Linked DNA regions of Homo sapiens. The protein of the gene in region 2 purifies or fractionates together with the protein of the main gene of each other region. This does not show direct contact. Each region holds a gene or a part of one and is shown on either strand. Other genes may lie near its edges.

Region 1 (3,655 bases), on a different chromosome or scaffold from region 2:
CTGTAGAACAAAGGTGATAAAACAGAGGCATCCTCCTTTGGGGACACTTGTGAGGCTCTGATGAAGGAATTGGTGGGGAGGCATTCTAAGTGCTTCCATCAACAGGCTGGACAAGAGGCTTTCTGAACGGGCCCAGCGGCTTTCTATATGGGCCCAGCGTGCCCTTGTTTTCTGGTACTGTTAGCTGAACACATTTTCACAGCTCACACCACACATCTGGGTCTCCACACCTTCCACCCTGGGCATCTGGATTAGCATCCAGCCTCGGCCCCTCCGCCCCTCCACTCCAAGCCATCACCTGGATTTCCCCATGCCTGGCTGACAGTCCTGAGTCCTGGTCCAACATGCTTCCAGCAAAACACTGCTGAAAAGGAAATGATGGTCTTCTGAATAGAGAAAGTAAACCATTACAGATTTTGATAAAAGTAAAATTCTCTCAGAGACGCAGGACAAGTTCCTTACGTTTTCTAGCTTTCTTGAATAAATACGGTGGTCAGGGCCGTATATAGATGGGTAATAGCAGATCTCATCTGCTATTACTCTGTGAAACTCGTTAATTTTTCTTCTTTTCCACTGTGCATGTACATAATTACATGCAGATTAAAGGAGTAGATTTATTAAATATAGCTCTGTTAGACATTTGAGTAACATCAACCAAGTACTACATCTGTTATTATTAATATTTTTTCTTAGGTAGAATCATGTCATGTTCCAAATTTCTTGCTTATCCTCAGCAACAATATCCATGATGATCATAGCTTGATGTTTTCACTATATGTTTCCTAACCGTTTAAAAATAAACACGTATGCATGTGGAAGGATGAACAAAGCTCCACTTTGAAGCTTTTTCTGTTTAAGCTTAGAAATTGCTAGCAGCACATGTATCTATCTTGGGCTGGCAAACAGCTTCAATCAAAGGATGGCAAATTTTAACAGTCCTTTCAAACATCAAAGCTGTCCTTTGGATTTTCAAATGTTGGCAAACAAAAGGAGCTTAGCTCTAGGCAGGAAAACAGTGTAAGGAAAAAAAAATGAAAACAGTAAATGCACAGAAGTTTAGTTACATCTGCAGTGAAGCACAATTTATGAATGATGATTACTTGAACTGTGATTTATGACTGCCCAGAGCGATCAGAAACAAGTTTCACAATATTAATGTTTATACTTTACGTTGTGGTGACATAATAGCAAGGAAGTCTTTACATTTCTGTGGGAAAGCACAAAATTAAAAAGCTTGTCACTTGTGATAGAGAGGTGGGCACAGGCAGCCCTTTCTGGCCATTTCAGTTTGTTTTATTGCTTAGCTAACCAAGGCTTTTATTAGTCCACCAAACTGTAAATTCAGTCGTCTTGTGAGCACTCAGAAGGTTGTGTCCAAATAAGCAAAGTACTTTTCAGGTCTAAGTGATTTGGTTTGTTCATTTCTCTTTCGTTTAAAATGATTTCCGTTGAATGCTCTTAATGCCAGAAAACAGTACACTAAAAAATGGTTAAGGTGGTAAATTTTGTTATGTGGAATTTTACCCTAAGTTTTAAAAACCTAATTCTCCTTTTAAAGGAATATTTACATTTTGAAAGTATTTCTCCCTTCTCAAAAGATGCTTTTGAAAAATATTTTTCTGTTTTTTTTTTTTTTTGAAACAAAAAAATACATATTCTGGCAGGGTGTGGTGGCTCATGCCTGTAATCACAGCACTTTGGGAGGCTGAGGCAGTGGATCACTTGAGGTCAGAAGTTCGAGACCAGCCTGGCCAACATGGTGAAACTCCATCTCTTCAAAAAATACAAAAATTACCCAAGTGTGATGGCACTTGCCTGTAATCCCAGCTACTCAGGAGGCTGAGGCAGGAGAATCGCTTGAACCTGGGAGGCAGAGGTTACAGTGAGCCGAGATTATACCACTGTACTCCAGCCTGGGCGAAGGAGTGAGGCTCCATCTTAAAAAAATAATAATGATATATATTTCTTTTGAAACACTTAAAATCATGTAGTAAGTACCACATTTTGGGACACATGACTCGGGGGAGAGATTCAGCTGAGATTGCTCTGGGAATGTGCATTTCTTCTGTGGAGTCTGTCAGCTACTGTAAAGTAGGTTGATGCTAGTTCTATGTAATAGTGTGTTTACATCCTTCAGGGAGTCAGTTTGAAGCAGCTAAGTACTGTGTCTGAGGAAAAGGAATATTTTTTCTTACTATATGTTATACACTGTGCCAGGGACTTCTTAAGTTATCTAATCCTCAATATAACCCTAAGAAATATTTTTTTCTCATCTTTCTTATGGGGAAACAGCCCAAGAGAGGTTCATTTGTTGCTCCTGGAGTTACACACTAGCTAGCAATGGTCAGTCTTACTTCAGGTCTTACTGACTCCAAAGTCCACACTTGATCCTTCCTAGTGGGCCAGAGAGTTAGATAGAAGTCAGCTGTGCCGGGTACCCCGTCCTTCAGGAAACTGCTGGATTTGCTCACCAAGGTTCTTTTTTTGTTTTGTTTTGTTTTTGTTTTTTTTTGTTTTGTTTTTAAACAGAAGAAAGAATCTATGAAGAAAAAACAAGATGAAGAAATAAATCAAATAGAAGAAGAGAGAACGAAGCAGATTTGTAAGAGCTGGAAAGAAGACTCGGAATGGCAGGCATCTCGTGAGTACCCAGAGGTCTCCATAGCACCTTCCAGGCTCTCAGCTGATTCTCTCCCTTAATAATGTGATCAATCTAGAAAGCGCTTAATGTGGGTTGTTGAGAGATATGTTCACAGTAAGTTACCACTCAAATGTTATTACTAACTTATTACTCAAATGCTTACAGGCTACTTTTGAACAGCAGACTCGTTCTCCATTTATTTCTGTATCACCAAAATTATGATGTAATTTATCAAATAGCATGATATATAGCTATGGAAAATAGGTTTTGGAGAGTGTTTAATGATCTTAGACTGTTTATATCTCATTAGCTTGGGGAAGAAAAAACACCATGAAATAGAATGAAAAGCTTCGCTATTTAGAAATGTCTAAGTATCTGAAGGAAAAGAACTGGAAGGTTATAATAACATGTAAACATTAGTTTTCTTGGAAAGGTGAGATTCAAGATTATTTATTTGAATGTTTTTCTTGTAATTTAATATTGTGTTTTGGATTTTTTTTCCCCTAAATTTTTGATAGTGAATACATTTTAACTTTGTAATCAGAAGCACACAGGAATACCAGGCTGGATGTGTTAGCATCCCGCTCCTGCCTGTGACCCAGCCTTGACTCCTATTTGAGTGAGCAGAATGGGTGAGAAAACTCATAGGAGAAGAATAAGCCCATGCAACTGAAGGCAGAGGAGAGGATGCTCCAGAATGCTAGAAGAATTAGGTTTGTGAAAGAATTAGTGTTTCCATCTGACTCAGAGAAATCTGAACTGCTAGATCAACCTGAGGTGGCTTGAGGAAGACAGCAGGTATGGCTATATTTGCAGGATGTTGAGATCCTACATTGATCTGCAGTCCCATTACAACCAATGCCATTTAAATGACAACTACTGTGAAATGAAAATATTTGCAAGATCCAGTAGGCTCTTTGTACTATGCACTGAAATCCTAGCATAAGGGAATATTTTGGGTGTCTCTTTGAAGTCAAGTATAACAGGATTTGACCAATACTGCCTGAAGTGTAA
Region 2 (3,655 bases):
AAACATGTCCTCAAAGGCTAAATGGCTAGGTGGGGTTGCCCAAGGCACTAGTCAGGAGGTGTGAGTACAGGGAGGCAGCTTCTCTTCCAACATGTGGAAGCCAGGGCCCACCAAGGAGCAGACCATGCTGCTCCAACAGGAGTGTGGCTCACTGTCACACCGGTCACTTTCACCATTTTGCAGAGTAAATGTCAACTGTTTCAGCAGAGAATACATTTGAATATACTTAAAGCCAAATAAGACCACAACTGGCAAAGAAATGGCTCCAGGTCCAATTCCAAATGTTGGTTAATCCCCAGTATGGATTAGGCGCATGAAGAATTGGAAGGAAAAAGAGACGCAATTAATTATCAAACTTTAATCGATTGACTAATCTTACAGGATAAACAATAAGACAGCTATTCAAGGTTACACTTTAAAAAAAAAATCCAGCAGTGCAAATCTAATAGACTAAATACGTTCATCTCCTCCCAAACAGGCATTTGATTTGAAAACAGAAACCAGAACAGAGCATACACCACAAGGAAACATGGTACTTACAAATATTGTCAAATAATTCAGCAGAACTCTTTAAGAAAAAAAAAAGGTTCTTAGAAATTGAGAAAGCAGTAGAACCACCCAGCCTGGCAGATCAATCTACCAGATGTTCTGCATGCGAGAGGGCTCCCAACCACCTGTAACTTCAGAAAGGCCGCCAGGCACTATTACGAAGGAAACAGGTGCAGATCCTAACTGGAGATGACTTTATCACAAAGCCTTAAGACAAAGGGACCATCCTCTTCCAAGACAACAGGTGTGAACAGAGGCAAGGAGCGAGAGGAGAGGGCTCCCTCAGCAGATGGGTGGAAAGCAAGCCTGCCCTTGCACGGCCCTTGGCACACTCAATCTACCCCCTTTCCCTTCTCTGCCCCTGGCAAAGAAAGGCTGGGCAAGTGCAAGAGCCCAGAATGGCTCCTCCAGGCACATGGTTAAAGTAAGAGTAAGAGGAAAACAAGCCCCTTCTGGGTGAAATATGGCAACTTTTCTGAGACATGGCAACGAGGCAGAGTTAATCTCTTTGGCCCTCATCAGGTAAAGCAGCAACTAAGGAGCCTACTCAGGGCCTTACGTGGGCCCCTTCTATGTCCACAAGAAAGTGCATCCTTAGCTCAGTTCAACATTTAAAAAGAGCTAACGCTACTTGCAAAAGGCCCACCATGGATTCAAACACTTAATACCAAAGAGGTCCAGCAACTCGCGAGTCTGTCTGTGTTCTGTGATCTGAAGCAGAGCTAAGGGGGGCCTGGCTCACAGGGTCACGCTCTTCTGCCAAGGCGCCTCAGGGAGGGAAAAAAAGGCATGATGATGTCTGTGAGCCAGAACCTGCAGGAGGACCACCGGTAGAGATTCTAGAAGACAAAGAAGCCCTCAGGAGGCTCTGAGAGGTGTCCAATGTCTAAGAGACGGCCACCCCCTCCATCTCTAGCTTCGAGTCAACGCTGTTACAGTCACTCTCCGGAAACCAGCTCTTCCTTTATCCACCTGCACGGCCCCTGCCACAGTGAGGGAAAGATCTGGTCCCTCTGACAGTAAGGAAATTGTATAGAAATTATCCTGAGGAAAAAAAAAACCACTGTGACGCTACCTAAAAGAAAGAGTATTTCAATTTGCTTACACAGATTTAGTCAGTACACTCCAGACTGTAAGAAATGTATGAAGAGACTGCTTACGGAACTCAAAGACTAAACAGTGAATACTACTGTGGCCCAGACACGGATCGAAAACACTTCTCCCAGTGGCTTCTGGTGCTATGTCTGCTCTCCCGAGAGCGTCCAGCAAGGTCTTCCATGCAGACAGGGTGAGGAGCCACAGAGCTCAAGATTGTTGAAGCTGATTTAGTGAGCTCTGTAAAGCAATACTCAAACAGCTCCGTACGAAAAGGTGTCATTTACATTATTATTTATATATAGTATCTCGAAGTAAGGAAAAAAGCACCATTTTACTGAAAATAAAAAGGCTCACGCAGGCTTTGGTCCTCCTGAAATGACACCAGCCTGAGTGAGAAGCAGTTGGCCCTTGGGGAGCGGGGAGATGATGGAACGCTGTCACCGGCAAGAAGGGAGGCCAAGTGGCCCGGCAAGCCACAAGAATGGGGCAATAAGGGGAGCAGGTGGAGGGGCCTCGGAGAGCAGCCAGGCTAGTCTGGGGATGGAGCCACCTGCTCTGAGAGATCAAAAGTAGGTGTGCGGCACTGTCAGGACAAGTCTCTAGGACTGGGGCATTGGCAAACAAAAGGGGCAATGTCTGACCCGAGATGATGTTCTACTTAATGCATCTCATTTCCCCCAAAACCTGTCACCTGCAGACAGAGGCTTGGACAAGTAGCTCAGATGTACTCTTTTCCCCAGGAACTGCAGGCCGACAAGGACAGAAAAGCTGCAATGACTGCTCCTTTCTCAAGGGATGAAAAAACAGGCTGTTTCTTGGATGCTGCACTTCACAAATGTACTAATTGCCCCCAAAAAAGCAAAGAGTAGATTTTCCTGCCTAGATGCATCACTTGGCATTGACTACACCATGGAAAGCAAGAGTCTGTCTATGTGGGCTGGATTCCTGAACTACAGCTTAGAAGGGAAGGGCGTAGAATATCATCATTAACTGGCTCACAAGGAATAGTCATCTTGGGCGAACACATGCTAATACGTTTCACAGAATGAGGGGTGACAGCCTAGAATCCAAAATGTGATGTTTGGAACATTTCTCGCCAAACCTTACTATGAAAGCCTGCAACCAGTGAGAGGAGAACTGCAAAGACGGCAGCAGAGAAACAGCAAACAGCACAAAAGAGATAATTTACCAAGAGACTTTCCCTCCTTTCAGAGGCAACCAAGCCAGAAGGAGATGACAGAAGTTCACGTGTACAGAGAACAGAAGGGCTAAAACCAGAAGAAGGTGAGCTAATCATGAAAGCAATTTATCCCATTTTTGTTGTTCAATAACACTGGCCAACCTGCTAGGGTCAGATGTCTTCTTCAGAAAGGCAGCATCTCTGAACCTGGGATAAAGGACACTTGAACTGAATGCATGAGCAGAAGGACCCAATGGAGAAGCATAATTGAAATCATCCTTGGACTGCTTAAGAATTTCTTGAAAACTTCCAAAGAAAGAAGGTTATCTGGATCTGCAGCTATATGGCTGTATAACTATCTTCTACCTGGCTCCTCCTGGAAGAGGTCTTTGTCTGCTTGGGAGCTGGGGCTGTTGAGCGGCACAGCCCAGGCACAACCATGCCAGGCTGGGCCTCTAGGCCAAGCTCAGTGAGGGGTGCAGACAATCATCCAACCAGCAATGGAACTCCTTGGAGATGGGGGCCCAAAGGGCAAGACATTTAAACAGGAGTCACTGGGAGATACTCTGCTGCTCAACGAACACCACAGCAAGTGTGAGAGCTCCTTGCCCAAGACTGAGCAGCTCTTCCTCTCCCACCGTGCGTTCACAGGCAGCAGCAGCACGGCGGGAGGGAGCCCAGGAAAGGAAGCGTTGATGAGGTACCAAAAGAAGAACTGACATCTTTGGGTTCTTAAAACAAAAACTCAAATTGAGGAAGCGAGAGAATGAAAAAGGGAAAGAATTAAATCTGAATCAATGGACAGAAATATGTGGCTTACTAACCCAC
Region 3 (2,834 bases), on a different chromosome or scaffold from region 2:
GAAAGTGCTGTTTGGAAAAAAGTACTACTTTGAAAAGAGCTAATGTATGCTCATAATAATAATTCAGTGATTATTGGCAAATAGTATATGTGCATTTAAAGCATGTGTGTTTACTACGTATAATTTTCATTAAAATTTATATAACATATCTTGGTTTTTGTTCCATGTTTAAAACCCACATATGTAGGGTTTTATTAAACCTTTTTTTGTAAATTTTATTCTTTGCAAAAGTGGCTTTTTTTTTTTTTTTGAGACAGGGTCTCACTGTGTTATTCAGGCAAGAGTGCAGTGGTGCAGTCATGGCTCACTTCAGCCTCAACCTCCTGGGCTCAGGTGATACTCCTACCTCAGCCACCCAATTAGCTGCAACTACAGGTGTGTATGACCACACCTGGCTATTTTCTTGTATTTTTTGTAGAGAAGAGGTTTTGCCATGTTGCCCAGACTGGTCATGAACTCCTGGACTTGATCAAGCCACCTCAGCCTTTCAAAGTGCTGAGATTACAGGCGTGAGCCACCATGCTAAACCAGCTGACATTTTTTTTCTAAGATTTCTTTTTACCTCAATTATATTAGTAATATTTGACACCAGGCGCAGTGGCTCACACCTGTAATCGCAGCACTTTGGGAGGCTGAGGCAGGTGGATCACAAGGTCAGGAGATTGAGACCATCCTGGCCAACACGGTGAAACCCCGTCTCTACTAAAAATACAAAAAAAACAATTAGCTGGGCGTGGTGGCGGGCGCCTGTAGTTCCAGCTACTTGGGAGACTGAGGCAGGAGAATGGCATGAACCCGGGAGGCGGAGCTTGCAGTGAGCCAAGATTGGGCCACTGCGCTCCAGCCTGGGAGACAGAGCGAGACTGTCTCACAAAAAAAAAAAAAAAAAAAAAAATTTGACTTACAATTTTATGTTAAAATTAAGTGCTGGTCAGTCAGTGGTCAAAATGTTTGGTTTGCCCCTTTGTGATTTTTCAAATATTATTAATTTTTCTTTTTAAAATTAATTAATTTTTTGAGACAGAGTCACACTCTGTTGCCCAGGCTGGGGTGCAGTAGCGCGATGTCAGCTCACTGCAACCTCCACCTCTTGGGTTCAAGTGATTCTCTTGCCTCAGCCTCCTGAATAGCTGGGACCACAGGCCTGAACCACTGCAGTAGTTTTTGTAGAGACAGGGTTTCGCCATGTTGGCCAGGCTGGTGTCAAACTCCTAGCCTCAAGTCATCCACCTGCCTCAGCCTCCCAAAGTGCTGGGATTTCAGGCGTGATCCATTGCTCTCAGCCATGTAAATTTTTATGTGAACATAATTTATTTCTGGATCAAAAGGTATAGGGATTTTCTACATTTCATGCTATATGGGGTTCCATAAGAGAAAAGAGTTGATTTGTCATCATATTTTAATGTTTCTTCCAGCATCAAAACCTAATTTTGGAGGATTTACTTTTTTTTTTTTTAAATGAGTTAAATTAAGAATTTTTTTCCTACGGAAGTTTTGTATTTTTGTCAATATTAAATGTTTTTGAGTGTATATTAAGACTTCAGATTTTCAAACGAAGATTTTCTTTTTTAACCTTCCAATTTGCATGACTCAATGGTCTTGCTTTTTGACATTTTTAATAATTAAGTATAATTGAAAGGAATGCATTGCATTATAATGCAAATTTGATAATTAACACTTTAGTTACCATAAAATTACTTTTTAATACCTTATTTTAGGGGGAAGGTAGTAAATCTTCTGGAAGGTATAAAAAAAACCTATCCTAGTATCATGTTGGAGGATTTAACTCCATTAATATCTTTATTCCTTTATTTTTATTTGATTTTTGCTTATTTTTGAATTTTTACTATTTTTTTCCTAAAGATTCTTTTTTCTTTTTTTTTTTTTTTTTTGAGACGGAGTCTTGCTCTGTCACCCAGGCTGGAGTGCAGTGGCACAGTCTCACTCAAGCTCACTGCAAGCTCTGCCTCCCAGGTTCACGCCATTCTCCTGCCTCAGCCTCCCGAGTTGCTGGGACTACAGGCACCTGCCACCACACCCGGCTAATTTTTTGTATTTTTAGTAGAGGCGGGGTTTCACCATGTTAGCCAGGATGGTCTCGATCTCCTGACCTCGTGATCCGCCCGCCTCGGCCTCCCAAAGTGCTGGGATTACAGGCGTGAGCCACCGCGCCCAGCCAAAGATTCAAATTTTTAAGATGACCTATGAAGCTCTCTGTGATCTTCCTCTGAAACCTTGTCAGCTTTATCTCATGTTCACTTTACTTACAAGCCATAGCCACACAGCCTAATTTTTATTTCTCAGCTTTCAAATGTGCTCATTCTCTTAACATTATCCTTTTGACCTCGTGATATTTAAAGGGGAAGACTTCTCTAATGTTGTAGATGAGATTAGAATCTCCTTGTTATACAGTATCACAGCCCTTATGTTTACTCTTTGGCACTCATGACAAGTGCCATTTTATTCTTGCAATAGAGTCATGTCTTACTTGAAAATTAGGTTGTAAAGTTAGTATGTAAAGCAGAAATTACATTCTCCCTCGAAGTGTTTCATTCACTCCCTCGAAGTGTTTAATCTCCCTCAAAGTGTTTAGTTTTTGTTTGTGCAGTCTTATAACAGGTATGGTTAATATAATTTGTGTAGTAATATACAATATTTGCTAGGGTTCAGACGTGAAATGTAACATTTTAGATCAAAGAATGAAACATGTTTGTTTTACAGATTTCTGTTTTTAAGTATGCATGTGATACAGGTCTGTCATGTATTTGTGATTATTTGATTATGTTTTCTCTACTAGACTATAAATGCAGTCAGCTCAGGGACTGTCCTTACTT

The links.
Region 1: the proteins of UBFD1 (region 2) and SH2D4A fractionate together in Homo sapiens (co-fractionation; one large-scale study listed by BioGRID). This does not show direct contact.
Region 3: the proteins of UBFD1 (region 2) and EIF4E fractionate together in Homo sapiens (co-fractionation; one large-scale study listed by BioGRID). This does not show direct contact.

Annotation. Positions count from the first base shown.
Region 1 is NC_000008.11:19,358,674-19,362,328, forward strand, and holds part of SH2D4A (SH2 domain-containing protein 4A), read left to right. Parts: intron 1-2,529; coding exon 2,530-2,641; intron 2,642-3,655. UniProt on the Homo sapiens protein: Inhibits estrogen-induced cell proliferation by competing with PLCG for binding to ESR1, blocking the effect of estrogen on PLCG and repressing estrogen-induced proliferation. May play a role in T-cell development and function.
Region 2 is NC_000016.10:23,571,078-23,574,732, reverse strand, and holds the end of UBFD1 (ubiquitin domain-containing protein UBFD1), read right to left. Parts: 3' UTR 344-3,655; downstream 1-343. UniProt on the Homo sapiens protein: May play a role as NF-kappa-B regulator.
Region 3 is NC_000004.12:98,881,455-98,884,288, reverse strand, and holds part of EIF4E (eukaryotic translation initiation factor 4E), read left to right. Parts: intron 1-2,834. UniProt on the Homo sapiens protein: Acts in the cytoplasm to initiate and regulate protein synthesis and is required in the nucleus for export of a subset of mRNAs from the nucleus to the cytoplasm which promotes processes such as RNA capping, processing and splicing.